Homo sapiens: one gene and its partners. The protein of the gene in region 1 interacts with the protein of each later gene in a pairwise test. Each region holds a gene or a part of one and is shown on either strand. Other genes may lie near its edges.

Region 1 (6,277 bases):
AAACACATAGACCAATGGAACAGAATAGAGAACCCAGAAATAAATCCATGTATTTACAGCTAACTCACTTTTGACAAAGGCACCAAGAACTTACACTGGGGAAAGAACAGTCTCTTCAACAAATAGTGCTGAGAAAACTGGTTATCTACATGCAGAAGAATGAGACCAGACCCCTATTTCTCACCCTACACAAAATTCAAATGTATTAAAGACTTAAATATAAGACCTGAAACTATGAAACTACTAGAAGAAAACACTGGGAAAATGCTTCAGGAAACTGGTGTGGGCAAATATTTTTGGGGTAAAACCTCAAAAGCACAGACAACCAAAGTAAAAATTGACAAATAGGATTACATCAAGCTAAAAAGTTTCTGCACAACAAAGGAAACAATCAACAGCCACTATGCAAAACAGTTTGGAGGTTCCTCAGAAAACTACCATATGACTCAGCAATCCTACTGCTGGGTATATATCCAAAAGAAAGAAAATCAGTATATCAAAGAGATGTCTGCATGTTCATATTTATTGCAGCACTATTCACAATAGCCAAGATACAGAATTAACCCAAGAGTCCATCAACAGATGGATAAAGAAAATGTGCTATATATACACGATGAAATATTATTCAGCCATGACAATGGCTGAATAATGAATAAAATCCTGTCAATTGCAGCAACATCATAGAATTGGAGGATATTAAGTGATATAAGCCAGGCACAGAAAGACAAATATCATCAAGATGAATCATGTTCTCAGTCATATGTGGGAGCTATAAAAATTGATCTCATGGAGGTAGTAAATACAATGGTGGTTACCAGAGGCTGGAAAGGGTAGCAGGCAGGGAGGGATGAAGAGGGATTGATTACTGGGTACAAAAATACAGTTAGATAAAATGAATAAGTTCTAATATTTGGTAGCACAATAAGGTGACTATAGTTAACAACAATTTATTATATGTTTTAAAAGGCCTAGAAGATCTGGAATGTTCCCAATACAAAGAAATGATAAATGTTTCAGGTAATAGATATCCCAATTACCCTGATGTGGTTATTACACATTGTATGCTAATATCAAAATATCCCATATATCCCAAAAGTATGTACAACTATTATGTAACAATAAAAAAATAAAAATTAAAAAAATAAAGTATATGAGAGGATATGCATAGGCTACATGCAAATACTACACAATTTTATACAAGGGACTTGGACATCTGTGGATTTTGGTATCCACAGGGGGTCCTGGAACCATTCTTCTATGAATACTGACAGATGACTGTATATGCAGTAAGAGTCCTTAGGGTGTTGCTTTTAAGTCAACTACCAATAGCAAATTATAGAAGGGTTACCACTCTGTTTTTTTTTAATCACATTATTTGATTGGTAGTTTGACATTTAGATAAGTTGCGTGAAGGTTTGTAGAAAGATATAATAGGACTTTAAGATAAATCAAACAAGCAATTTCAGTATATAGAAAATTTAATATGAAATCACTTAAAATATTTCAACATTAAGAAGTCTTAATTCAGTGCCTTGGCATGAGACATTTAAAAGCATGTTTGGGTCTAATCTCAAATTAGTTCAGGGGAACAGAAATAGCTGAAAATTTATGTATATGTGTATGTATATATATATATACACACACATCTGTATATACATACATGTATATATTCAAATTATATACATATAAAGATATTTGTAGATTCAAGATATATAGGGATTATATATCTATATATATTATATGTGTGTCTATACAGATATATATATATATATATTCATCTTTCTGTGTGTGTGTGTATATATATCCACACACACATATAAAATCTATTGTTGCTTAGTGGTGGAATTCTCTAATTTTACTCATACGCATATTTTGGAAAGCTTATCTCCAAAAGGGGCACATTAATCGTACATGGAACAGAACCCTTCTCTTCTACTTTAATTAATTTCATTTTAAATTTATTTATTTCTATTCTTCCACTTTTAACTATTATAGTCTCCTTTAAAGTTGTTAATTCAGATAGGAAACTAAACTCACTTTTGTGGAATCAGAGATGATTCTGAGTTGGAAAGAACCCGAGTATGCACTTGGGCCTGTTTCCTGTCTTCAGGCAGAGAGATAAACTAAAGCTAAGAGAGATGGACTGCCTGTTCTTTGCCTAAAAGGTCACATTTCTCAACTACTGGGGTACAAACTATATTTCATGAAGTAATTTTTGTAAAATAATTTTTCTTTAGCTACAGACACAGTAAAGTAGCCATGTATAATTAAGTTTTTAGCTTGCCTCAAATATGACCTTTGTTCTTCTAGAAAAATTTCCTCCAAAATCAGTAGCAGTAGCAAGTATGGCAGAAAGAGAAATGTGGTTCTCCATGGGAGAGAGACTATTTCAAGCAGTCATATCTTTTTAGCAAAATGTTTTGTGAGTTTTTTGGGAGTGTGACACTTTTAGTGCACACTCAAAGACTTGTGTTTTCACATGTATAGAAGTTCATCTGGGGGTTTCCAAAGCCTTCCGTATTTTCACTTATGTGTGGCCTTACAAAATGTAGTTTTTAAAAAATCTATGGTTTACTAAATGTAACACGTTAAAAATCACTGAAAAATTTGCCAATGTAAATCCTAAATTTGGGTTTACTAAGTTAAAATGAAGCGTTAAGACCAAAAAAACATTGAAAATTTTATTTTCACAGGGGATTTGCATAAAAAGAACATTATTTTTGTTCTGTGTATATATAAGTATTTTTGTTTCCTTAACTTGTTTCTGTTGCCCACACACAACTAGGAGAAGATGCTTTTCTTTATTTTGGTTTGGCCAAAGATGCTAATGGTTAAATTATGAAGGACTTTGTTTTACTTATGTTAAGTGGTGAAAACTGTAGTTCTTAATCTATGAAGAATTCTCTAGGTGGCTATACAAGAAAAATACAAAAAGTTAGGAAAACATGTAAACGTAAGTTATGAGGTATTTCATAGATACAGTGCCCATACAAATTCTCTTTCCCACAATTTTCAACTGCCAGATCTCTTGCTTTAGTCTTTTTTCCTTATATTTGGAGAAACAGAAGAGTTTGACATAAAAGTCCCTTTGAGGATGTGAGGGTTGCAGTAGTTTACAGCAGGGTCAGAAAATGAAAGTAATAAAGCAATATTTACATGTTTTTGTATAAGAACAAAAATATTTCCTTAAAAAGTTGTTAAAAGTTTTTTAGTCCTATAAACACTCACTTTTATAGGGCACATGATTGTCTGTGTGACTTCTCTTTCCAGAGGAAGACTTTTTTATTTTTAAATTCTAGGAAAGCATGACTTATTCAAATTGGATTTTCCATGCTATATTTAGTTTTACAGATGTGTTTAGTTCTAAAACTGTGGTTTACTGTATTCTGGGGAGAGCATGTATATAAAAAAACCCAGGAAACCCTTACACCCAACTTAGACACAGTCAGTTTTAACACTCCATTGTGATCTCTCAATTCTTACAGCTTATTACTTCCATTAAGAAGAAATCTCTGAATTCTCTGCATCTAATTTTCAATGGCTACAGTCTGAGAAACTGACCCATTATCACTTTTTCTAAATAGCCAAGTTCTCAAAGTTTCTGAAAGCTCTTTGATCTTTTTTTTCTGGGAGCGAAATAGGTTGTTCTTCTTATATAACAAGAATCAGGAATTCCCAGCAAACAGATTTCATTACGTATAAAGCATATTCCAGAAACACGCAGATCACACATGAATATGCTCTCAGTCATCATAAACAGGCATTCACTCAAGGGGTAAACCAGTAATGAGCCAAACATACGTACTCATGCAAATGTACAATTGACAGCAAATTATTTTAGATCCTAATGTCATTTCAGTGTTAAAAATGAGCTGGGAGACAGCTCCTGTGACATTTGGTATGAAAGCTTTAGATTGCAATTTTCATGTAGAAGTAGCTTCATATCACATCTCGTGAGTTTCGTATCGCACAGCAGAGGACCATGCTGAATATCATGCCAAAGATCTGAAACAGAAGAAACACTCATCAGTGACTTTGAAACGGGTACTGATAGGTAAAAAGTTCAGCAGACTTCCTGGGTGTCTAACTCAAGTTAACAAATAATTATAACCAATAATTACCAGTCACAAATGACATTTTAGTATGTTACTTAAGGTTGGCTATGGGGTAAATAATTCTAGATTAACTGTTTAAATGTGTATTATTATTGTTAACAAGTAACAAGGCTCTGCTTTAAAAGAACCTACCCTGCTTCAGAATTATAGAACCGTTCTGAATACCTGTGAAAGACAGACACAATACTGGCTTTGGAATTTTATATTTCAGGTTAATCCTAGATCTCTTTTATATGTTTATTTTGAAAACTGTGTCCATAACCACTTGTTGTTTAGATATGCTTGTGGTCTAAATAATTTTCTATTGCTGGAAAAGCTCTGATTTTTTACAACAGTGTCCATACATCCAAAAATGGAGTATCAGCTGGGTGCAGTGGCTCATGCCTGCAATCCCAGCACTTTGGGAGGCTGTGGTGGGAGGATCGCTTGAGCTCAGGAGTTCTAGACCAGCCTGGGAAACATGGTGAAACCCTGTCACTACAAAAAATACAAAAATTAGCTGAGCATGGTGGTGTGTCCCTGCAGTCCCAGGTGCTTGGCAAGCTGAGGCGGGAGGATTATTGAGCCCAGGAGGTCGAGGCTGCAGTGAGCTGTGATTGCACCACTTCACTCCCTGGTGACAGAGACCCTGTCTCACAAAAAAAGAAAAAAAAAGTGGAGCATCACTTCATTCTCAGTCCATTTTTAAGGGCAAACGATGCTTCACTGTTTAATTCAATAGTTTTAGCAAAACATAAACTAAAGGGTTTATACTATGGTATTATTGACTTTTACCTTTTGGATAGTTCTCTGAGAAGTTAAATACTTGAGTGAAATCAATATCCACTTCCATGGTTTGAATAGAAGAATGCCAAAGAGTCTTCTTGTCCGCTATTATTTCCCCTACAATTTTGTAGAGCCCATGGAACCCTATCTGTGGGCACCATTCCATAAACTACTGTCAATGCTTATTTTAAAAAATGGGTACTATAACTTTCTGGTTCTCTCCTCAATTCCATCCTAAGTCAGACTAGGATCTGTAAGTGCTAAATTCAATAAGATATGAATGATCAGTTGTTTTGAAAAGGGAGGGGCAGAAGCAGGTAAGGGCATGGCCAGGAACAGGATTTCAAGCTTCTGGATGACAGGACTCAGTACCAGTGTGTAGCACGGGCGACACCCAATGCACTTTTAGTTAGCTGATTACATTGTGCAACTCTCACTTTACAGAGAAAAGAACTAACGAAGAAACCTGGGGGTGCCGACTCAAGATAGGCTCACTATGGGCATTTCCCCTTTATCATTGCCATAAGGTTGGATGTAATCCCTACCCATCCTGGTTTCAGTGAGACTCCTTCAGTCTCAGCCTACTGCCGACACGAGTCAGGGGTGAATGCTTCTAGGCTGCTCATTTGCTGAGATTGTGAAACTCTCCATTATGCAGCACACGCTCAGACCTGCCTCAGGACTGTCCTTTGGGGAGCTGCAGAACTGCAGCCAGGCTATCCCCAGAGCAGGTGGGGAGGACCTGAGAAATGTCCCTTGATTTGGAGGGCCTCAGCAGAGTATTTCCAGCCACTTCTCCACCCCTCTGTGCTCTAAATACAGAAAAGGGGAAGGCGCTTGTGTGTCCCCTGATAACTGCAAATTCACTGATTTCCTCACAATTCCCACAGCCCTTGCCTTAGTTTAGGCCATGAATTAATCTACATAGAGGGCTAGAGACTAAGTGCCATCTTAGCATTAGCTATTATCATCCAACCCCTGGACAATGGAAATCATCCTTTAACCCGCCTTCCAAATCCAATCTTGCCTCCCTCCAACCTTTCCTCTATCCTCTACCACAGGTTCTTCCAACTCTTGGTGACTCCCCTTTCCTTAAGGGTGAAGCCCACCCTTTCAAAGGGGCATACAAAGATCTCAATGATGTAGATCGAATACTCTCTCCATTACCACCTCTCGCAACTCCTGCCATACCTGTCCGCTGCTATCCATTCTTCCCACACACTCTTCTTTTGTACTTTAGAAGTACAGAGCCACCTGGTGGTGGTCTGGATGCACTACGCTTAATACCATCTATGCCATTGCCTTTGCCTGGTAGATTATGCAGAGAGCTGGCATTTGTTGAGTGTTATATGTCCCAGACACTTTATTTATATTAATTTGTAATACTACTGTATATG
Region 2 (7,286 bases), on another chromosome or scaffold:
GGAAGCCACAGTGCTGATCCCTGGCCCACCCTCCCCTGGGAGACCAGACTGACCCTGGGTCATTGGTTGGCTAAAGCCTGGGGCCTCAAGTTTGGTATGTGGGGCTCGCTCACTGCCAACGGGTTCTCCTTGAGGATCCCTTTCTTCCTTTCATCTGCTCAGGCCTAACACCCCATACACTGTGTGCGGATAGGGAGGTGACCCCTTTAGCGTCTCAGCAGCACACTCCTGCCTGGACCACCCTCTCCCAGGAAGGTCAGACCCCAGCGGAACCTTTGCCCTGCTTGGGTGGAAGCATGAACAACTAGTACAGCTCAGCAAGGGACTCCCAGTATTGCTGGCCCTTGGGTGTCCCTGGCATTGGGTAGATGACCCCTCATGCCAGGGACTGGCCTCAAGGCTGTTCCTCTCTACTCCAGAGCCTCTGGGCAGTGGGTTGTGGATTTCCTAAGAGCTGACCATTGCTGCGTCAGAGGCTTGCAGCACTGGGTTACTCAACAAGGCCCTGCAGCCTGGTTTGCTATGAAGGAGAAGATGGGGTCTCTCGTCCCTAGCCCCAGTGCACTTAAATGTGCTAGTCCCAGAGGTTGGGAGTCCTGAGTCAGCCTGTGAGGACAGGGCAAGGACAGTAACTGCCTCGGGTCCTGGGAATGTCTGTGGGGAAGAAGAGGCTCTGCTACCCTTGAGATCTGCTGGGTCCTGGTCCCTAAGTGTACCTCTCCACCCATCTCACCCTGAGTCAGGCCCAGGAAAGGGGTATCTTTGGTGTTTCCTGGGCTTCTGAACACCACATTCATCACTACCATTCTCCTCAGTGCTGGCCCAACCCCAAGAGCTGGAGAACAGGCTGGCCCCGGCCACTCTATCTCACTTTCCCTGGCATAAAGGCTTTGACCTTGGGCAACATACCCAGGGCAACCCAGCACCTCGGCAGGCTGGTGATCAATCTTCTCAACTTACAGATCCTGCTGACCATGCCTGCAACCAGGCCTCCCATCTGCTATCTCCCTCAGTGCACACTGTCCTAGGGAGTTGGGTGAATATCTATTATAGTGTGTCCATGTCACAGTTCAGAATCCTGAGGTCCCAGAGCAATTCAAATGCTTCTGGCTCCTTTCAGTGGAAAGCTGCAGCCAGCCTAAATCATCTCCCTGTGCTGGGCCCAGGAAGAGATGACCCTTTAGTATACCATGTTGTTTGAGTAGCCAAGACCTCTGGGAGTAAAGGCCCCTGGCCATATAAGCAATATAGGGGAAGGCGTCCTGAGCTCCTCTTGGGGCCTCTCTGCTACTGGGTGCTCTGCAAGCTGGGTCCCTGTGCCCTGGATCTCTAGAAATGTTTCTCAAATTGGGGCTGCTGAACAGAGGGCAGCCCAGCCAAGTGAGGGCAGGAAGTGGGCAAGAAAGCAGGAAGGGTCTCACAGGGCCACCAGGGAGGGCAGTGCAGGGCAGGTGGCCCATGACAGGTGGGATGCTGGCTTGCCTGCCTGCCACCATCCTCTGTTCCTTCTGGAAGCCATGCCCTGCCATGAGCCATGGCCTTGGTGCTGAGACTGTCCATTCCACCTCCCATTCTCCTCCTCCCTCTGACTGTCACCTTGAGAAGCATCCACCCTGGGGCTTAGGGCAGCTGTGTCTGTGACATGTGGAGCCCTCCTCCTCCTCAGAGGCCCAGGCCAGCCTCCAAGTGCTGAGATAGCCAGCTGCCTGTGGGCACCCAGGTTGCTAAGGTATCTTCCAGGTTCAGCCTCCTCCTCTCCCTCTTATCCTATCACCCTCTCCTTCTATTCCATCCTGCCCACTGGGTCCCTGTGCCAAGCCCTCCACCTCCCTCCTGCCTCCCTCCGAGTCCCTGCATGACTCATACTTTCCCTGGGCCCTCCCTATAAAGTTTGGTTCCACAGGCTCTTTGAAGAGATCCAGCCTCTTCAGCTCTGGGCAGGCAAGAACTAGGCAACCAGGCCATGGGTACCAGGGCCTCTGCCCCCAGCCCGGGAGCCCCTGTGTTGGGGCCAGGATACTATCTGAACATGCTGACAGTCTGGACTTTGGAAGGGGAAAATGGTGCTTCCCTGTGTGGGCTTCTGTGTTTGAGCTGAGGAAACTGAGGCCAGAGAGATGCCGTAATTTATCCAGGGACCCAGAAGGGGCTCATAGCTGAGCTGAAGAGTGTCCCACATCCTCCCCAGTACTCCACACTGGTCCCTGAGTGGCAGCCTTGCTAGGATGGCAGGAATCAGCTGACCACTTATTCCTGGGCCATCAGACCCTTAGAATAGGGACCAGGTGGGCAGTGCTGCCTCTGTGTCTGAAAGTGGACCCACCGTGACCAGTGCCCAGTGCCCACCAAGGCTCAGCCAGGGGTTTCACCAGGGCATGGGGCACTGGCTGAGCATACCACGCCCTCTGTGTCCTCTGCAACACTAGAGCCCTGAGACTAGAGGGGCAGAAAGATGCCAGCTGTCAAAAGCCAGTGATATCCACCAGAACACACTGACCGCCCCCACCCTGTGCCTCTCCTTCTTTGCAGAAGCTACCTGTGCCCTGGGTTCTCTGGGCAGGGAAGGGCTGGACAGGCAGCCCTCAGGGGACAGCCCTGCCTGCCACTTGGGCAGCTGTCAGAGCATGCAGATGTGCCCGATGCCTAGCTGGGGCACTTGGCACAGTTGCCACTGCACCCTGCCTAGGGGTCCCAGCAGCCTCTGGGCGGTGGGTGGAGTGGGGTGCACGGTCACACAGGCTGAGAGGGCCCCCAGGACGCCCCCATCCCACAGTTCCCACTCCAGTCTGCTGTCTTCTCCCAGCTTTTTCCCAGCGCCCCGCCTCCCCCGACCTTACCTAGGGACGCAGCCAGGAAGAGAGCGAAGAGCAGGGATCCCCAGCGCCAGCTGCCGGCCTCCAGGGCCGTGGGGACGCCCATGTCGCCGTCGGACGCGCAGAGGAACTTCTGGTGCCGGGGAGCGGGCGGGACGCGGCCGGCGCGGGGAAGCCTCCCGCGACTGAGTGCGAGCGAGTGAGCGCTGCGGGCGGCCCCAGCGCCGTGCTCCAGGCACCCGCCCCCTTCGCGCAGCGCCCCCGGGGGGCCGTGTGGGGGAACTGCCTCTCCGAGGGCCGCGTGGGAGGGGCTTCCCGGAGGCCGGCCCCGTGGGTGGGGAGCCAGCGTGCGTCCCAGCGAGTCAGCTCCACTTGATCGGCAGTTTAAAGCCCGTTCTACCGTCCCCCAGTCCTTTTGGAGAGAAATTATTATTGCTGCGCAGCCTAAGAAGTAGATCTACCTCTAACAGCGTGATAGACGTTACCATGGCTTGCATCTGCCCTCAGCCACCAGCCTTTGAGTGATCTGGGGACAGAGACTTGTACCCTACATCCTCCAGCCAGACCAGGGCTTGGTATGTGGTAGGCACTCCCAGCTGTGGAATGAGTGAGTAAATGAGTGAATGAATGAAATCTGACATTGTGAAGAGCTAGGCAAGCTGGAGCCAGTTTAACTGTAGATTCAGAGCCTGAGGCACCCTGAGTGCATGCGCGCGCGCACACACACACACACACACACACACACACACACACACAGAACAGGTGCAGGACTACACGCCAAGATCAGCACATCCCTACCCCGGGACACACACAGATATGCAGGCAACACCTGTTGGCGTGCCCCACAGCACATCCTGCAAGCTCCCCTCCGGCAGAGGCCTCAGCTGTCCGCCTGGCTGTGCACCCGCCCTCCCTCCCTGGTGCCTGGATATCTGCAGGACACTCTGATGCACCCTAACTTCTAGTGCCTCTGCTCTTGCACCCACACCCAGCACTGCTGGCACCACTGGAATGTCTCTCCCCTCCTAATTCTTCTCATCCCTCAGGGCTCAGCTCAAGTCCTCCCACTTCACGAAATGTCCTGACCCTTCCTTTTTCCCGGCAAATCCTTACTGTCCACACCCCCTTCAGCTACCACCTCCAGCCTGAGATAACCAGCAGTTGGTTCTTCTTCCGGCTGTTCTGCCCTCCAGAGCGAAACTACAAACCTCTCTCTGATGTTTCTGAGACCCTAGCACAAAGCTGGGCGTGGAGAAGGTTTTACTGCACTTTTATCTGAATGGACAAACCAATGAGTGAGTGAGTGATTGTGTGATGGAGGAGCAGAGGTGATCGTGGCCAGGACCAGGGATCACAGGAGTGGAAGAGCACAGCCATTTTACTCAGTTTACCCCAGTCTAGCTGAAGCTTCCAGGGGTTTTTCTGGCACTTTAGGGATCTTGGGTTAATAGGTGACTCCTAGGCTGAGAGGCAGAGGACACTCAGAGTCTGACTGGGTCAGGAACCAGGGTATCAGGACTCAATGGGAGCCAGGAGTCCTGGGGGCCTTGTGGGTGGCCTGATCCAAGTCACGGGCTCTCTGGAGGCCCTTAGCCCTTGCTCTAAGGGCAGGGAAGGCTACAACAGAGGAAGGCTGAGGCATCATGTTATTACTAAGTGAACTTGTGCAGGCCCAGTCCCCCTGGAGCCAGTGAACTCCCCAGGATGGGAGCCCCAGAGGCTGGCAGGACATAACCCAGGTCCTTGGGCATGCTCCTGGCCTTGTGACCCCACCTTGGAAGGCAGCCCAGGGCCCTTCCTGCTGGCATAGCATGAGCTCCCTTCCACCAGGGGAGGTACAAAGCCAACTGAGATCAGGTGGACACCGGGCCCTTCTCACCCTGACATCCTCTGGCAAGTGAGGGGGGTCCCTTAAGGGCAAGATCCTAGAGCACCACCCCATCTCAACCCTTCCTGGACTGGCTTTGCTCAGGACACCCTTGAAACCAGACTCCCTCTTCCCCAGGGCCTAGCAGCCGGGGAGGGCCTGGAATTAGAGAAAGGGGAGCAATTGCCCTGCCAACCCCTTCCCCAGGGGGATAGAGCCTCTGAGCTGGGCCCAGTTCCCTCCCCCCTTTTCACTTCCTTTCTCCCTACCACACTGCCCACCACTGAGCCTCCTGGGGTTGCATCAGGGTGAGACACAGGCATTGCCCAAGGACCATGGTCCAGAAACCTCAAGCACTGTTTCCTCAACACCAGGGCAGGACAGGAAGGGCTCAGCTGAGAGGGCCTTTGGAGCACTGACTTTCTCCTCCCTCCGAGACCAGAGGAAGTCAAACCCACCTTCCCTCCCCAAGCCCAGACCTGGTCTCAGAGCAGGAGGGGCTCCAAGGCCCAACTCTGTTCAAACTCTCCACTCCCAGCCCCTGCAGCCTGCACACTCCATCATGTGTTTGTGCTTGTTTTCATTAAAAATAGTGGTGAAGGCCCCAAATATTCGAATAAAGATGACTGTCAAGGAAAGCCACCATGTCCATCTTGTGGCTCTGCAGGGCCTGGAGGCAGCTGTGAGTACTCTCTACTGGTGAGGGGCCCAGCCTTGAGCCTTCCTGAGTCCCCTTACTTGCCGGCAAGAATACAAGAGCACCACATTGCAGGAAAGGGGCTGAATTCCAGCCTCCCTGTTGGGGAGGGGATGCTGACATTTCCCACATTCCCAAACTCACCTCCCAAACTCCCTGAGCTAGAAACAACTTTAGAAATCAAGCCAGGTCCTTTATTAAACAGACAGAAAAGGTCCAGAGAGGGGATGTGACCTGCCCAAGGCCACGCAGCTCCTTTTCAAGGCTGCCAACCCTATCTGCTTTGGAAACCGTTTCAGCAAACACCCAATGCCCTCCACCCCCAAGATCCAGAGCTGCATATCAGAGGAATCATTGCCTCCTCAGGGGCAGTGACAGCCTTCTTGGGTCCAGATCCCCTGCCCATCTGTCCATTCTTCCAGTGGTAGCTCCAGAGCCAGCCAGTCCCAAGGAAAAAACCATATGCAAATTGCCTACATTGAGTTGTCTGTACCACCTGCTTTCTGTTCTCTGGCCTGGCAATGGCCTAGTCACGTTCTCTCTACCCAGACACCTTTGCAGTGATTAACACCTTATTATTTTATATTAGTCACTCATTATGATTTGTATTAGTTAGGGTCCTGGCAGGAAACAGATGGCACACTCAGAAAGGGTTCAACTGAAGAGAGTTTAATACAGGGACTGTTTAGGAAGGCTGGTAAAGCACCCAGAGACTAGCACCAACCACAGGAAGCCACTACCACTCACATGTCCAAAGGGAAAGAAGAGGAAGTGATGTTCTGGAGCCCAGTGAAAGCTGGTGCTATGAAAGGGGGACCCCTGTCCCCAAGCAGGAGAAACACAGCCATGGGCAGAACCGCAGTGAGGAATGGAGGGAGTGTGGAAGAAACACCCCCGCCTCTTTCTCCCCACTGCTTTCATCTTCAGCCAGGGCCTCCCATTGGCCACACCCAGCAGGAAGCTGGATAGCAAGGGAGCCAGGGTAAGGCAGTTAGTCCACAGGGGACATCTTCCCAGGTGGAGAAAGGCAGGAAGCAGGAGCAAGAACCATTTCTAGTTGATTCTTGAGTGCTGATTGCCGAGTTCTGATTAGCTGAATATTACTTGTGGTCCAATTGACTCAAGCATTGGCAGAGATGGCCGATCACAGGAGAGTATGTTGTAGAAGCTGTTCTTGGAATGAAGTTATGTTCTGTGAGTCTTATTTTTCACAGGTCAACAAGTTCTGCCCACGAAATTGCCACAAACCCAATGTCCTCCTTCTGGAAATGCTGAAAATATGTATTTCTTTCATTTACATGAACAATAGATGAAGGTTAAATATGGCATTGGGCCGAGTGCCTCACATTCTTGCCTCTTGTAGTCTGGCAGGACATATAGGCTCAATAAGACACAGGCCCTCGTAAAGCTCTGAGCTGGGGTGACTACCAGGGTTCATCCCATATGCCAGTCTTAATCACTAGACCACTGTGCTAACAAGGATCCCAAGTTTGCATCTGGCCTCAGCAGTTCTGTGATTGATTAGTGATGTCTGCTGGGGGTCGCAGACATAGGAGTGGTGGTGCCAGTGCCATCTTGGACAGAGCAGTTACCTTACTTGGCTTTTGGTGGAGTTTTTGAGCTTTCTCTCTCTACCAGCCTGTGACCCACCCCCTGCTTTCTTCTCCTTGCCCTTTCTGTTTGAGTCACATGGAGTGAGTTCAGCCCAGGAGAACAGCCATCTGGATCCACCTTGGTCCCTCTGGCCACCTGACCAAGGACGTGACCCACTCTTTTCCACAGGCCACCACGCACGTGTACGTGACCATTGTGGATGAGAATGATAACGCGCCCATGTTCCAGCAGCCCCACTATGAGGTGCTGCTGGATGAGGGCCCAGACACGCTCAACACCAGCCTCATCACCATCC
Region 3 (9,284 bases), on another chromosome or scaffold:
AAGAATTGTCAAACTCATTTGTATTTTCTTGTCAAGGGAAATAAATTAAATCTGGAAGAGATTATTTATCTCGATCCCTCATTTTACCATGTAGGAAACTGAATGCCAGATAGAACAAATGCCTTTCTTGAGGTCAGAATAAATGTGTTTCTTGAGGGCAGATGGCTAATTACAACAGAACTGGGCTGTGGACCCAGGCCCCCTTCTTGTTAATTTAGTGTTCCCCTTCTCCGTCTACATCTCCTGTACCCATACATGCACCATGTGGGCTCCTGAATCCTTAATCTATCTCCTCCTTAGGTCACATGTCCCTGAATTCCCTCACTTACTCACTTCTTCCCCCACCTCTACCAATCTATCTCATTTATTTTGTTCTGTCTCTATTAGTTGTGGATAACTTTATCCCCTGATATTCCTCCTCTTTTCTCCTTCTACCTCTTTTTCTTTCTACTTTCTATTATCAGCTTTCTATTTAAATGGTTACTGGCTGTTAAGAAACTTACTCTGAAGAAAACTTTATTATCTAATTCCACAAATGGAGTGTTCCATTTATCTATGGCTGTGCAACAAACTACCCCAAGATGTAGTGGCTTAAACAACAACTATTTTATTACGATTCTCTGGGTCAGGATTTGGGCAGCATTCCATGTGAATTAGTTGGAATAGAAGGCTGCATTCTGCTGGTATCTGGGCTAGGCTAGAAGGTTTAAGATGGCTTCACTCACATGACTGAGATCTTTGTGTTGGCTTTTGCCTGGGGCGGGGGTCTTAATTCTTCTTCCCATGGCTTCTCTCCCTGTATGATGTCTCACTTTATCTGGTTAGCCTGGAATTCCTTATGTGACAGTCCAGAGTAGCAAGAGAGCAATAGTGGAAGCTGACCATTCTCAGATAGCTTAAGCCCAGAACTGGCACAGTATCATTTTTATCACAATTTATGGGTTAAAGCAAGTCCCAAGTCTCAGATTCCATGGGTGAGGCAATAGATTCTATCTCTTGATTGCATGTGCATATTGGATGACAGGAATTGCTGGAGGTAATCTTTACAGGCATTTTACCACAGGAAGTAGTAATATTGGACCCAGTAGGTGCCATGAACCATATTTTTTTACCCTCTCCATTCTCTCCAAATCTGTTTCATTGGTGGGATTCTCTGGGCTTTGGGTTCATTGTAGCAAAAAAAAAAAAAAAAAAAAGAAAAAGAAAAAAAAAAGTCGTGTAAAGTTGAACTACAACACGAAAAACAATCAATGTTTTTCTTGGTGCTAGGTGGAAGGGATCAAGTTTCTCTTTTCCCCAAGCCATATGTTGAAGAAGTGCAGAGGAAGTAAGGGCAGGAATAGATGGTAGAGGTAAACTGCTAGAACCTTTACAACAACTATTTAACTGCTAAAAATTATAAAAAAGAAATGAAAATCTCTGGAAGTTGTCTTAAGGGCATGCAGAAAATTAATAATTATTTATTCAAGAAAATCTAAATCTCAGTAAGAAGTGAGCGTCTATGGCATTTGAGCCAAGATCTGCTCCATTAACCTCTGTTCTTCCCAAGCTCAGTATGATGAGAGCTCAACTCTGAGTGGATGTAGCCAAAAGACTGGGCTCCCTCTCCTCCCAGCTTCCAGTTAAAGATCATAGTTCACCCCTAGAGCAAAAGGCTGTTGGAATCTCTTATTGTCCCAGCTTCAGGTTGCAGAAATTCTATTCATTGTAGACAGGACCAAGAGGACTATGGTTTCCTTCCTCTACCCAGCCTCCTCTCATAGGGTATAATCTCTAGCCCAGGAGCAGCAAGGTCCTGAATATCCCTGCCCTGGATCACTCATAGTGTATAGGATGTATTCCAGGAGGCATAAGCAAAAAAGACTAGGGACTACGATCCGTATTCAGTGCTCCACTTGTGGAGCAAGAGTATTGCTCCAGGAGAAGTAGGTCACTGTCTCTTCTGCCAGCTCTGGTGCAGTGGTGTAAAGGTACTACTCATAGGAGAGGCAGGCCATAAGAATAGAGGGCTATGTATCTTTCCCTTAGAAGACTGATGATACATAAGCTGGAATTTTATTTGTAAGACAGCATAGGGTATTTCAAGCATAGGGACACTGTTGAAAACAATGAAGATTCTTCTGGTGGACAATTAAGAGTAGGCTTGTTGCTTCATGATAGCAACAAGATAGTGGCAGACCAGCTAGAAGTTAAGCAAAGACAGGCAGAAAAAGAGGTAAAAAATGCCCTCTTGGATTTGGCACTAGCCACAAAATTTGGCCTCAAATATTACCCCTATAAAGAAGCCTGTTATAGATTGAATGTTTATGTCCCCCACAATTATATGTTGAAGCACAAATGCCAGTGTGGCTGTATTTGGAGATAGGGCCTCTAAGGAAGTAATTAAGGTTAATTGGGGTTATAAGAGTGGGGTCCTGATCTGACAGAATTAATGTTCTTATAAGAAGAGACTCCAGATAGCTCACTCTCTCTCTCTTTTTGGGTGCACACACTAAGGAAAGACCACGCGAGGAAGTAACGAAAAGGCAAGCATCTATTAGCCAGAAAGAGAACCCTCACCAGTGAATTTGCTAGCAGCTTGATTATGGACTTCCATCCTCTGGAGCTGTGAGAAAATACATTTTTGTTGTTTAAGCCACACAGTCTGTGGTATGTTGTTATAGTAGCTGAAGCAGACAAATTTAATTGGATCAGATTGTTGGTCAATTCATACCTCAGGGTATTATTGAAAACCATAGAGCAACAATTCAGCAAACAATTAAGAAGGCCAAAATCTGGGTGTGATACCAACACAGGCAGAACAATCACTTAACAGTGAGATAGTGGAAAGAAACAGTCAAAGTGAACACTACTAAAATGATTATTATCCCTTGGAAATGGGAGAGGATAAGAAAGACTGCATCTACCCAATGATGCACCTTCTGAGGAATGGCAACAGAGGCTGCGCATGCAGGGAAAGTCAGACAACATCTGGTAAAAAAAAAAAAAAAAAAAGTAGAAACAGTCCAGGTGTTGTATTTAGAATTTGAATATTTCAAAACAGCTATTATAACTAGGTTAAAAGAATTAAAGAAAATCAAAGAACAAAGAATTAAAGATAGATATGATTTAAAATGTCTCATAAAATTGAGAATATCAATGAAGAGTTAGAAATTATTTTTTAAAAAAGAACCAGATGAAAATTCTGAAGTTGAAAAGTACAATAAATGAAATTAAAAATTCACTAGAGGGGTTCAACAGTAGAGCTGTACTCATAGAAGCTGGCAGAAGAAAGAATCACTGAACTTGAAGATAGATTGGAAGATATTATGCAACATGAAAAACAGAGAAAATAGAATGAAGTAAAAAAATCAACAGAGCCTCAGAGAAATGTGGTACATTGTTAAATGCATTAACATATTCATAATAAGAGGGCCAGAAGGAGAGAGAAAAAGGAGCAGAAAAACAGTCAAAGAAATAGTGGCCCCAAACTTCTGAAGTTTGTTGAATATTAATCTACACATTCATGATGGTCAACAAACTCTAAGAAGAATCAAGCAAATAGATTTACATGCTTGCACATTACAGTAAAACTATTAAAAGCAAAACACAAATAAAAAACCTTGAAAGCAGCAAGAGAAAAAAGAAAAGATTCATTATGTATGAGAGCATCCTGATCAGATTAACAGCCAACTTCTACCAGAAGCAAAGGAGGATGGCAGTGAGATGACATTTAAAGCTGTAAAAGAAAAAGAAATTCCTATCAACCAATAATCTTACATCTACCTAAACTATATTCCTAAAATAAAGATGAAATAAAGACAAACAAAATCTAAGATAATTTGTTGCTGGATTCACTTTACAAAAATCAGTAAAGAAAGCAATAGTAAAGGAAGAAATATTAAAGAAAACAAATGACACCAGATATTAAGTTGAATCATTCCTAAAAAATAATAGCACCAATAAAGGTAATAATGTGGGTAATTATAAAAGACAAATGATTTGTTCTCCTTTTTCCTCTTAACAGATTTAATAGTAAACTGCATGAAATAAAATGTATATAATCTTAGATGAAATGGATAAATTCATAGAAAGACACCGACTACCATATGAACTTAAGAAGAAATAGAAAATCTGATAAGTAAAGATATTGAATTATTAATAAATTTCATAAAACCTTACACAAAGAAAGCCCAAGTCCAGATGTCCTCACTGGTGATTTCTACCAAAATTTAAAATAGAATTAATATTAACTCATCACAAATTCTTCCCCAAAATAGAAGAGGTGTAAATACACTTCCCAACTCATTTTATGAGGTCAATATTCTGCTGATAGCAAAAAAGGAGGAAATATCACAGGAAAATAAAACTACAGAACAATATCCCTTATGAATACAGATGCAGTAATCCTTGAAAAGACTAATGAACTGAATCCAGCAACATATAAAATTACGAACAATGATAAAATGGGATTTATCCCAGTAATGCAAGCTTAATTTAACATCTGAAATACAAAGTGATACAACATATTAATAGGATACAGAACAAAGCTCACATGATTATCTCACTAGATGCAGAAAACGAATGGACAAAATTCAACACCCTTTAATTATATAAACACCTGTGAAACTAGAAATAGAACGAAACTTCTTCAAAAGCATCCATGAAAAACTTGCAGCTCATATCATAATTTTTTTCAATAGGTTTTTTGGGAACAGGTGGTGTTTGGTTACATGGATAAGCTCTTTAGTGGTGATTTCTGAGATTTTGAAGCACCCATCACCTGAGCAGTGTACACTGTACCAATGTGCAGTCTTTTATCATAATTATGGTGAAAGCCTGAAAACTTTCCCCTAAAATCAGGTACAAGATAAGGATGTCCACTTCAATGAGTTCTACTCAACGTGGTACTGTGTGTTCTAGCCAGAGCAATTGGGAAGACAACAAAATAAAAGACATTCAGACTGGAAATAATTTAATAATCTGTGCATTCATCTTGTTCCAGTTACACTTTGAAGTGGTTTATATGAATTAGCTAAAAATCTCTCAAGCAGCCTATGAGAGTGATGCTATCATTATTCCTATTTTCAGATGGGGAAATTGAGGCACAGAGAGGTTAAGTAATTTTCTTACAGTCATATGACTAGTGAGTGGTAAGGGTGGGAGTTCAACTGAGGTGGTGGGTTGCCAGAGCCCAAGCTCTCAGCCTCTATACTGCACTGCCTGCCACTCAGCCCCATCTTGGGAATTGGCATGCCCTTCTCCAGGTTACTCTAACCAGAAACCAACAAGTCATCTTTGAGTTGCACCTCTCTATTATTCCCCCTTAACTACTGTTATTTATTAGCAAGTCCTATTGACTCCACCTCCCAAAAGTCCCTCAAATATGACTACTTCTTTCTATTTTTATTGTCACCACGTGGGTCAAAGCCACCAATGTGTTGGCTGTAGTCACCTCCTAAGGGTTTCTATGTTTTGATCTTTTACACTCTAGTCTTCCAGGCAGCACCCAAAGTGATCATTTTAGAAATGTGAACCATGTAATGTTACTTCCCAGCTCAAAACTTTCCAAATTTTTCCTTTTAGACCTTGAATTAAATTAAACTCTTTATAATGGCCTGAAGTGTTCTGCAAAATCTGATCCCTTTTTTGACCTCTTTATATTTCACTCTTTCTTTACGCCACAGGGGACACCTATGTAGTTTTCTTTCTGTTCAAGACAAGCACTTGAACAAGAAAATCCTTCTTGTCTTTGGGCATTTGCTCCAGCAATGCCCTCTACTTGGGATAGCCTTCACTCACATAGGTTTTCTCCTGGTAATTCTATAACTTGCTGCTGAGATATCACCTCCACAGCGGTGCCTTTCCTTCCCACACAATTTAAGGTAGTTCATCTTCCCTTGCCTTCTCACCATTCATCATACTATATAGCCTCTGTTACTATTGATTCATTTACTCTTTGTCTCCCTCTACTAAAATACAAGATCTTTAAAGAAGGAACTTTGTTTTTCTCATACAACATGGTATCATTAACACTTCTGATGGTGCAGGCCCTTTTTAGGTATGCAGTAAATATTTAATGATGAATGAATGAAATGTTAGACATTCATGGTGAGGCTGAAGCTTTTATCTCCCCTTCTAACAGGAATAGTGATTTGAGGTTCTTGGGAAAATTGATATGAAAGTACAAAAGCAAAGTGATTTTTATGTGCTCAACATTTGAAATAAGAGGATAAAAAAATACAAATTTTACCAACATTATTTTGGAGATAGAAGCAAAGTTCTACCACTCAACAAAAAAACATTAAAAAATAAAAGCTTCTCCAAGATTGCAAAAATAAAGTCCCATTTTCTAAATCCCATTTTTGGAGATGAAATCAAAGTTTTAGAGTACTGGCATCAAATTTTCTAATATTTCTGTACTTTTTCATCTCTTTTTCTCCGTCTTTTTTCTCTTTGATGCTACAGTAAATTTCTTTGGCCTATTATTCCTAATTTTTAAAGCTTTGGCCATATTTGAATGCATGGGAATCTTCCAGGATTTATTCATTAACAGCAGATTCACAATTCAGTGTTTGTTGCATCATAGCATTTGCTTTTTATAACTTTCTTCTTAAAATAATACTTAAAATTCACATCATTGTTCTGATCAAGAGCCTGTTCTGCATCTAGAGATACTTAGATGACTTGACTTTAATGAGATGATAAGGAATATATCTTAACTTTGGTTTTTAACTTCTTTGAGGTCACAGGCTCTTTTGGGAGCCAAGTGAAGACTGTGTACTCTTGCCTCTCCCATAAAACACACACACACACACACACACACACACACACTCACACATGAACACATCGTATACAATTCCAATGGACCTTATGAAGCCCACTTTTGGATTTCTGGCTTAGTTCTTCAAGGAGCAGTCTCAGCTCAGAGTATATCCATATTTGTTAACCTTAGAACCCAAGACAGGGAAGCAGTACACAAAAGTAAAAATTGCCCACATTTTCACACTTTCCTCCTTGTGGCATTGCTCAGGGGCTTTTCTCCAGGTTTGATTCTTGCTTTGGACTGGCTTCTGAGCTGCTCCAGGATAAATTATCTCTCCTGGTCACTGACTACTTGGCTTTCCCTGGTCATAAGATTCATGAGAAACATAAAATAAAGCAATGCTTCATATGACCACAGCATACCAGGCAGTTCCAGAACAATTGGTGAGCCTGCTTTGCTCATGCTGTCTTCTCAGCCCAAGGAAACAGTAAATCTCAACAATGTGTTCAAGTTAGTACTCAGGTTCCTCTGAGATGATGGCCACTGGGGACCCAAACTACCAAATTCTGTGGTTATTATTAGGATATTATACATAACAAAAGCAAAAGTCTACTCATTTAAGATATAAATACTTTATTTGTTACTTTCCAAATTGTTCTTATTCCAACTAAGAAGATTGTTTGGAACTACTCAAAATCCTGAGTGCTATTCACATAACTGATAAAAAACCAATGTTGTAAATTGGCTTTAATGTATATTCCAAAGCCAGTTTGGCAATATATGTCAAAATCCTTAGAAATGTAGGTACCTTTTGACCAAGTAATTTCCCCTTTAAGATTCCACTTTAAGGAGATAATATATTGAGCAAAGATTAATTATAAGGATGTGAATCATAGTAGTGCCTATATGAGCAAATAATTGGAAAAAAATGAGTTGTCCAATAATTTAAAAATATTAGTTAATTATGCTATGATATAGCTATATTAAATATATACTGCCTTCCATATTTTAAACATAATGATATAGAAAATTTTATAAATGGAGAAAATATTAACAATATTGATAGCTGAGAATCAGGTTCAGAATCTGTATCTTTGGTAGGATCCTCTTGTGATGCAATCATCTTATTCACATCCATTCTAGCGCTTCCCCACTGAGGAGCAGCCCTGTGGTTTAGGTAGAATTTTCCCTATTCTCAGCTCTATGAGTCAGCATGGCTGGGTTTTGCCAGTCTTCTGAGTATAATAATGCCTAAGTCAATCAGCTCATCCATATTCCCCTGGCTATAGTGGTTGTTTCTCATTTAGCTAAATCCACATGCACATCAAGACTGTTGTGTAGCAGTTTGAGAGGGGATAATCTCTCTATGTATCTGTTAAAAAAGAAATACATAGTTTGATTACTTTTGGCAACCATCCCACTACCATGGGGAAGATCAGCTTGAGGTTGAAGAATAGCTGAGAGCCACAGAGAAATGAATCTGGAGACCTCGTCAAAAAGTATCTGAAACCTGGCCCCTCTAGATGTTTTCAGTTGCAGAACCAATAATTCTTATTTATTAATTATTCTAGCAAGAGTCTTGTTTTCTGTGCTTATAACCTAAAGCATCCTAATTAATATGGAATCTAATTATGTAAAAAATATATTCATATATTACAAAGCTACACAATAAAATATCAATAATAATTGTCTCTTGGAGAGGATTACCAGTTATTTTTCCCTCTACTTTGTGATTTTTTTTTGTAATCCAGATTTTCTATAATGAATATATATTATTTTATTCAGAAAAATCAAATATAATAATAGAGTCAGAATAATAATTGTCATCTAAGCCAAAACCATCAGACTTTTAATTGTGAATGGTGATAGGCTAAATGAAATGAAGTGAAAGCTAATATATTGTTAGTTTTGTTTGTTTGTTTGTTATTACCTTTCAGAGTCAGGAATGCAAAGTTCTTAATTCCAAGACTCTTATTTATTTCTGTACATGAGTTTATTTTTAAAAATTTAAAAATCTGATTAGTTCAAGATCCATGGATTTTGACATCTGCCTTCCTGACTCAATATTAGGACACCTAAAATTGGTTTTAGGCATGACAGAAGAAACACTGAGCTTGGGATTCCCACTCCAAAATTTCCTGGATATTTGACCTCAGGCAATTACTTAAACTTCCTGAACCTTAGTTACTTCAGCCAAGAAATATGGGGTTGCAGTTAAGTGAAATAAGCCAAGCACAGAAAGACAAATATCACATGTTCTCGCTTATATATGGGAGCTAAAAAAGTGGCTCTCGTGAAGATAAGAGAGTAGATTGGTGGTTACAAGAGACTGAGAAAGGTAGAGAGGAGGAAGGTATGAAGCAAGGTTGATTAATGGGTACAAATGTATGATTTGAGAGAAGAAAAAGATCTGGTGTTTGATAGATCTGTGAGATGACTATAGTTTGCAATTATCTATCATATGCTTCAAAATAGCCAGAAAAGAATAATTGAAATGTTCCTAGAATAAAGAAGAGAGAAATATTTAAGGTGATGGACA
Region 4 (7,721 bases), on another chromosome or scaffold:
CCTCGGCCTCCCAAAGTGCTGGGATTACAGGCATGGGCCACCGTGCCTGGCCTAGATAACTTTTTATATAATTAAGAGATTTTTGTAAATACCAATTTTATTTTCAATCAACTTTCAGTTCAATATGTAAGGATGACAAGACTGCACAAGTAGCAACTTTTGGTGTTTCAACTATTGCCTTTGGTCTGGTAAAATGAGAAAAATGTGTTAATAATTTAATGCAATCTTAAATGTTTAATTGCAGTATCAAATTAAAAGCACACTGAACTCAACATGGGGTTTTGTGTACACAGTTAACAAGGTGACTGATAGTAGTAATGGGCTGCCATTCTATGATGTGGATATGCTCACGAGTTTTGTCTTCATAAAACGCAATACGGTCATTGTGAAGTTAAGACAGGTAAGACACATCTGTTTCTTTGAAAATGTTTAAAACATTTAACATATTCAATTCTGAAAGATCTTTTTAATCTACTCTGCTGAGAAATCTGAATTTTTCATACACAAACAACCTAAATTACTATTTACCTTTATTAAAATAATTATAAAATGAATAAAATGTTAAAATTCTAGAACTCAAGGCAACCCCCTTTGGGTCCCTCCTTGAATGGGAGCTCTGTTTTCACTTTATTTCACTGTCTTAAATCTTGCAACTGCACTCTTCTGGTCCATGTTTGTTAAGGCTCGAGCTGAGCTTTTGCTCGCCGTCCACCACTGCTGTTTGCCACCGTCACAGACCCGCTGCTGACTCCCATCCCTCTGAATCTGGCAGGGTGTCCGCTGTGCTCCTGATCCAGTGAGGCGCCCATTGCCGCTCCTGATCAGGCTAAAGGCTTGCCATTGTTCCTGCACGGCTAAGTGCCTGGGTTCGTCCTAATTGAGCTGAACACTAGTCACTGGGTTCCACGGTTCTTTTCTGTGACCCATGACTTCTAATAGAGCTGTAACACTCACTGCATGGCCCAAGATTCCATTCCTTGGAATCCGTGAGGCCAACAACCCCAGGTCAGAGAACACGGGGCTTGCCACCATCTTGGAAGTGGCCTGCCGCCATTTTGGAAGTCGCCCACCACCTTCTTGGGAGCTCTGGGAGCAAGGACCCCCGGTAACACTTTGGCGACCACGAAGGGACCTCCAAGGTGAATTGAAACTGTAAAACTACAAATGGTTCATCAAATGGAGCCCCAGATGCAGTCCATGACTAAGATCCACCGTAGACCCCCGGACCGGTCTCCCAGCCCATGCTCTGGTGTTAATGACATCGAAGGCACCCCTCCCAAGGAAATCTCAGCTGCACAACCCCTCCTATGCCCCAGTTCAGCAGGAAGCAGTTAGAGCAGTCATCGGCCAACCTCCCCAATAGCACTTGGGTTTTCCTGTTGAGAGTGGGGACTGAGAGGACTAGCTGGATTTCCTAGGCCGACTAAGAATCCCTAAGCCTAGCTGGGAAGGTAACTACATCCATCTTTAAACATGGGGCTTGCAACTTAGCTCACACCCAACCAATCAGAGAGCTCACTAAAATGCTAATTAGGCAAAAACAGGAGGTAAAGAAATAGCCAATCATCTATTGCCTGAGAGCACAGCGGGAGGGACAAGGATCAGGATATAAATCCAGGCATTCCAGCCAGCAATGGCAACCCCCTTTGGGTCGCCTCCTTGTATGGGAGCTCTGTTTTCACTCTATTTCACTCTATTAAATCTTGCACCTGCAAAAAAAAAAAAAAAAAAAAATTCTAGAACTCAAAATGTAGTCACAGCACTCAATGCCACATATATGCATATGAAGGCATAAGGCAATCATGCAGATATATGAAATACTTGTACACTGTATTGTATGTAGAATGATTATAAATTTATTTTTAATTATGTAAATACAAGTTTTAGAATGAATCATCTTCCTATTCATGTGGCATTATCTGTCATTTTTTAAAAACAAGTTTAAAAGCACTTTGTATGATAATGGGACAAAAAAATTAGAATTACAAAGTTTAGATTATAGGGTGACTTCTTAATATGGATACAAAAAATTGAGACAGGTTCCAAACCAAAATAAAGAATATTGAGTTACTTAGTTTACTTCAACGGAGCAGGTTTTTTTGAGGGAAGGCGATGAAAGAGTAAATGATTAAGCATGTGAAAAAGTATTAGAAAATTGAGCATAGAAATGAAGAAATATTGGGAGGAAGGAAAAGATAGTACAGATTCTTGTTTTATAAGGTGTCAAATTATGTGCTAGCCATATGTATTATTTACTAATCTCATGGTTGTGTTACCCCTATGTATACTTTTGTTTGTTTTTGTATGTACTCATCTGAAAGCCCTCTATTTTTAAATAGAATTTTTGATAGTGTAAAGAAGTTAAAGGATGAACAATGGTTTGGAAAGAGCAAGTTTCAGAAGGTAGAAAAAACTTTACTTGTTTGGAACTCAATTATTTTGAACAGAGCTATTTACTGTCTGACCATACTTTCCTATATATGCAGTGTAGTAGTCCATTTTCACACTGCTATAAAGAACTGCCCCAGACTGGGTAATTTGTAAAGGAAAGAGGTTAAATTGACTCATGGTTCCCCATGGCTGGGGAGGCCTCAGGAAGCTTACAATCATGGTGGAAGGCGGGGAAGCAAGGACTTTCTTCACAAGGTGGCGGGTGGGAGAATGAATGCAAGAGGAACTACCAAACACTTATAAAACCATCAGATTGCATGAGAACAGCACGGGGAAAACCACCCCCATGATTCAGTTACCTCCACCTGGTCTCTCCATTGACATGTGGGGATTATGGAAATTATGGGGATTATAATTTCAAGATGAGATTTGGGTGTGGACACAAAGCCTGACCATACCATGCAGTATGCAAAATCTATGTTCCGATAGACATGTGCCCTTTCTTTGGTACCAACGTGATCTTCTACAGCATCTCTTACATACTATTCTCAAGTCATATGATATCATAACTTGACCATGACACAAAATTGCCATGGCACTGTATATCCTCCTTTGTTTGGCACATTTATCAAAATTTGACAGCATACCAATTTGTAATGATCATTCATCATTAGTGACAAGAATGATGGGAAATGAGGTGACATAAGGAAAGAGATAACTAGAGAAAGGGAACGAAAACTAAGAAATTTCATGGCATCAATTTAAAACTATCAAGACAAAAGCTTGGGGTGGCAGACATCTTATAAAGGTTTACAAGAGGGAAGAGGAGTTGCACATTTACAATAATGTCTGAAGGAATACAAAAGCCAGGCAGTACAGTCTTTATGCTTGCTATAAGAGGCAAAAAGTCTTTGGTTTGGTCAAATATTTTTAAACATTCCCCACTGGAAAATACCCAAGGCTAGAAGCTTACACCAAAAAGTTTAGAGACTGTGTTGCGTTCTTTGTGGAACAGAGATATACAACTATCTTCCTGCACATATACCAAAGGAAGACTCTTCAGTTCTAGGATTTTTATATCGTCTTCATAATGTTATAAAAATGTATAAACAAGTGAAATGCTAATTCCTGGGTCCTTAATGGATATTTTCAAAATATGAGGCACTTTAACTTTTAAACTATAAAAAAACTGGATATTAACATGCTGGTAAGGTTAAAGTTGGGAAAAGCTTGCAGTTTTTGACATACTATACATGTCCTCCTACATCCTGAAAGGGGAAAAAATGCCCACTGGGACCCAGAGGTCTGTTTCATGGTGCTACAATTCTTGTTTACAGAATAAAGCAGTAGGAAACACAGTCATACCATTCCTGCAAGTTAAGTTTGCAAAACAGCCTCACATTTATTATACCAAAATCAATGTATTGGGGAGATCAAAATATCTTCTCATAGGGGAAAAATAGCAAATACAACTTGGAGAAAAGTGACTTTGTTTTATACATAAAGTACAGTAAATAGCTAAAAAAAAAAAGTAGAAATACAAATATGCTATAGTTCATCGTGTTGGTATACATTGTATTCCTTGGGAGAAATGAAGCCATCACCATCATGGTCATTCTTCTTAAAAATATCTTCTAAAACTGCATCCTGATATGACTTGTCACGTGGCTTCTCATCTTTTTCAAATTCCCTTTGCAAGTAGAGGTTTATCTGGAAGGCCAAAATAACATTCCTTTAATTAAAAGGTATCACAGTGAATTTCCAGTAACTTTAAGGAATAGTTATAATAATGAAACTCATGTGCAAGATTACTTACAGTAAATGATACAACAGTATGAAAAGCTATTTGAGGTTTTATTTTTCTTATTCTTTGAAGCAATGTTTTGGAGAGAAACAGGTCTTCAAATTAGTTTTCCCTAAGATGATAGATGGTTAGTGGTACATACTCGAAGATTAATATTTAAACTGAATTTTGTTGAAACTAAATGCTTTCTAATAATCCATGCTGTTCCTATTATCAAAGGAAAATCACGCATGACTGCCATTAGTGAAAGAAACCCAATTGGCATTTCTATAATCTCTAAAACTAATGAATATGTTGTATAATCAATAAAACACAACCATGGGGTTTGAAATAAAATTTAGTATTTTAAGTTTTTCTATGCTTCTATAGCTCTCCTCCAAGTCTACATAACTATAATAATCTCTTTAATAATGTCAAATAAAGAATCCTGAAGTATTCACTAATTATATAAAATTTCTATATGCAAACACACATTAAAAGTATTGTCCAATATAGTAGCCACTAGCCACATGTGACTAATGAGCACTTGAAACATGGCTAGATCAAAATGAGATATGTTACTATAAATATAAAATATATAACAGATTTTGAAGACTTCAAAAAGTTATCTCATTGATAATTTTACATCGATCTCATATTGAAATGGCAATATTATAGATATATTGAGTGAAGATATAACATTAAAATTAATTTCACCTGTATCTTTTTACTTTTTAAGATGTGACTATAAAAATTTTAAAATTATATGTGTAACAATTGTATTTCCTTTGGAAAGCACTAATCCTTATAATAACTAAAGAAAGCAATGCACAATCATCTGGAGGTAATGTTCAGTAAGGCTGGCATTATAGAGGCAAGAGTATTTTTGAAAGCTAGAGTTTGAGAGGTTTTTAGCAATACATATCCCAGGGTCAACCCATTGCAAGTTGACTTTATTTTAGAGCAATCAGTGGACCTTAATGAAGGATACATCAACTGTTCTCAAATGGGACTTTGGTCCTACATGAGGCAGACACATTTTTTTCTTCCAGCCAAAGCTTAGCAATCCTATGTAGGGGTAAACAATTTTTAATACCTTCAAATATTTCTCAGTTTCTAAGTAAGTCAAATTATTTTTACATAACCAATATTGCTGATGCTTAAACTTGACTCCTTTTCCAGTAAACTACAGTACAGAGGTACAAAAAGACAGTGGGTAAGAACATGACCTTAATTTTGCTAGTAATGGGTTCCACACTATTTCCACTTTTTAATTTAATAAAATACTGTATTTCCCCCGTCCTTTCCGTCTTTATTAATATTAAAGAAAGTTTTTCTTTTTCTTTTTTAAATGTTCCTTCCTGTACACTGATGAAATAGTTTACTTAATCTTTCTGACAATGAATAAAGTTTTTTGTTTGTTTGTTTTTGTTTTTGTTTTTTTAGTTCGTGTTTCTACTTCAGGCTTTGTCTTGGATTTGCTGTGTGGTCTTCTGCAAATTAACCTCTCTGAACCTCAGTTTTGTCATCTGTAAAAGGAGATAAGTAAGTATCTATATTGTAGGATTGATATGAGGATTAGAATAATGATTATGGCCATCAATAAAAGACAGCTATTGTTATTCAAGTTAGTGAAAATCACTCTCATCCATCTGGCAATAAAGCAGCTGATATCACATAGACATCTGGGGAAATTGTAGATAAGTAGATTACTATTTTGGATTTTCTCTATTTTTATTTTCCAGAAAAGAACTTAAGATCATCTAATGTCTTACTGAGGAGTATTCATACTGCAGAACGTGGCTCTTGGTGTGCCTGTGATAATGAGTGGTCTGTGTGCATAGGCTGAGCTCTTGGGTACTATGCGAATTCATCTGCAGCTGCTATTCACTCTAAAAAAGGGTGATAAGGAGTCAATAGAGAAGTACACTTTGGGAACCATTTGCCACCCCGGTAACTGCCCTTCTTCTTAAGAACAGGACATGTTCCCTTCTCCTTCTTCCACTGTTGGCCAACCAAGATGCCTGAAGGGAAAGTCATTACTAATATCCTGGTGTAAGAAGTTGAACTGGGTGGGGAAAGGATTGGAGAGGGAGATGAAAAAGAAACAGAGAAAAAGACTTATTTTTATTACTTGAAATCAACCTAGTTAGCTTTTACTACTTACTTATGTGGTAGAGTTACACATTTTTAAATGTCTCCTAACTAGTTAAGAGGGGAGACAGCTGGTTTACTAATTTTAAGCAGGAGTATCGTCAGTGGGACTAAGTAAGACATTAGAATTCAATAAATAGTATTAGACTTGAAACATTCATGATTTTCTCTGAAAGAAGCAGTCTAGGCCCAAAGTTAAAAATATAGTAGTGGGCTGGGCATGATGGTTCACACCTGTAATCCCAGCACTTTGGGAGGCTGAAGAAGGAGAATCACTTGAGGCCAGGAGTTCAAGACTAGCCTGGGCAATGTAGTGAGACTCCATCTCTTAAAAAAAAAAAAAAAATTAGCTGGGTATGGTGGCATGCTGCGGGGATCGCTTGAGCCCAGGGGTTTAAGGGTGCAGTGAGCTATGATCACTTCACTGCACCCTGGCATGGGCAACAGAGAAAGACCCTGTCTCTAAGAAAAATTTAAAAAATTGAAATGTAAGAACAGTCATGAAGCCAGATTGCCCAGGTTTTGCCCCTTACTACTGTGTGATTTTTGGCTGATTAACCTGATTATTATTTTCCCCATCTAAAAGCGAAGATGATGACAATAGTGTCTGCCCCATAAACTATCATGAAGATTACATAAGTTCACATACTTATGTGCTTATAAATAGTACCTGGTACTAAAAGTATAAAATAAATGTTATCTATTATTATCTTTTTTTTTTTTTTGGAGGCAAGGTCTCAGTCTATCTTCCAGGCTGGAGTGCAGTGGCATGATCACAGCTCACTGCAGCCCCAACCTCCTGGGCTCAAGCGATCCTCCTACCTCTCAGCCTCCTGAGTAGCTGGGACCACAGGTATGCACCACCATGCCTGGCTAATTTATTAAATCTTTTGTAGAGACGGGGGTCTCCCTGTGTTGCCCAGGCTGGTCTTGAACTCCTGGGCTCAAGCAATCCTCCCACCTCGGCCTCTCAAAGTGTTGAGATTATAGGCATGAGCCACATGCCCAGCCCAATTATCATTATTATTACAAGATCTTTATTACAAGGCTGAGATACAGACGCTAGCTGGCTGAACTTCTGGCTCCTGTTTACCAACTTTCTAGCCCACTCAATTCAGACCCTTGCTAGCTCTTTTCATCATCCTATGAGGCGTGAATTATTTGCCCTGTTGCAAATTCTTACAGTGCTGTCTGAAAAAGAGATATGCTAGTGTAATCTAGAAACTGGAAGAGCACTGTAGAGACAAATAATTCGGGATTTTAATGACTCTCTTGCAGGGAGAAAGGCAATTGAACAGGATGACTCACAAGGTTTATACTGAAAAAGCTTAGAGCTTTTTCTAAGCGCTTAGATTATTTTTTAGTGACCAGCTCTATAAAAGCAGTGATCAGA

Evidence for each region.
Region 2: the proteins of TSPAN2 (region 1) and VSIR interact in binary tests that used the Homo sapiens proteins (3 or more experiments, as listed by UniProt).
Region 3: the proteins of TSPAN2 (region 1) and SLC30A8 interact in binary tests that used the Homo sapiens proteins (3 or more experiments, as listed by UniProt).
Region 4: the proteins of TSPAN2 (region 1) and FKBP7 interact in binary tests that used the Homo sapiens proteins (3 or more experiments, as listed by UniProt).

What each region holds. Positions count from the first base shown.
Region 1 is NC_000001.11:115,046,551-115,052,827, forward strand, and holds the end of TSPAN2 (tetraspanin-2), read right to left. Parts: intron 4,006-6,277; coding exon 3,940-4,005; 3' UTR 1,461-3,939; downstream 1-1,460. UniProt on the Homo sapiens protein: May play a role in signalling in oligodendrocytes in the early stages of their terminal differentiation into myelin-forming glia and may also function in stabilizing the mature sheath.
Region 2 is NC_000010.11:71,770,521-71,777,806, forward strand, and holds the start of VSIR (V-type immunoglobulin domain-containing suppressor of T-cell activation precursor), read right to left. Parts: upstream 3,001-7,286; 5' UTR 2,920-3,000; coding exon 2,838-2,919; intron 1-2,837. Other genes in the region: CDH23 (cadherin-23 isoform 1 precursor), read left to right, coding at 7,160-7,286.
Region 3 is NC_000008.11:117,136,885-117,146,168, forward strand, and holds part of SLC30A8 (proton-coupled zinc antiporter SLC30A8), read left to right. Parts: intron 1-9,284. UniProt on the Homo sapiens protein: Proton-coupled zinc ion antiporter mediating the entry of zinc into the lumen of pancreatic beta cell secretory granules, thereby regulating insulin secretion.
Region 4 is NC_000002.12:178,461,831-178,469,551, forward strand, and holds the end of FKBP7 (peptidyl-prolyl cis-trans isomerase FKBP7 isoform a precursor), read right to left. Parts: intron 4,102-7,721; coding exon 3,940-4,101; 3' UTR 1,834-3,939; downstream 1-1,833. UniProt on the Homo sapiens protein: PPIases accelerate the folding of proteins during protein synthesis.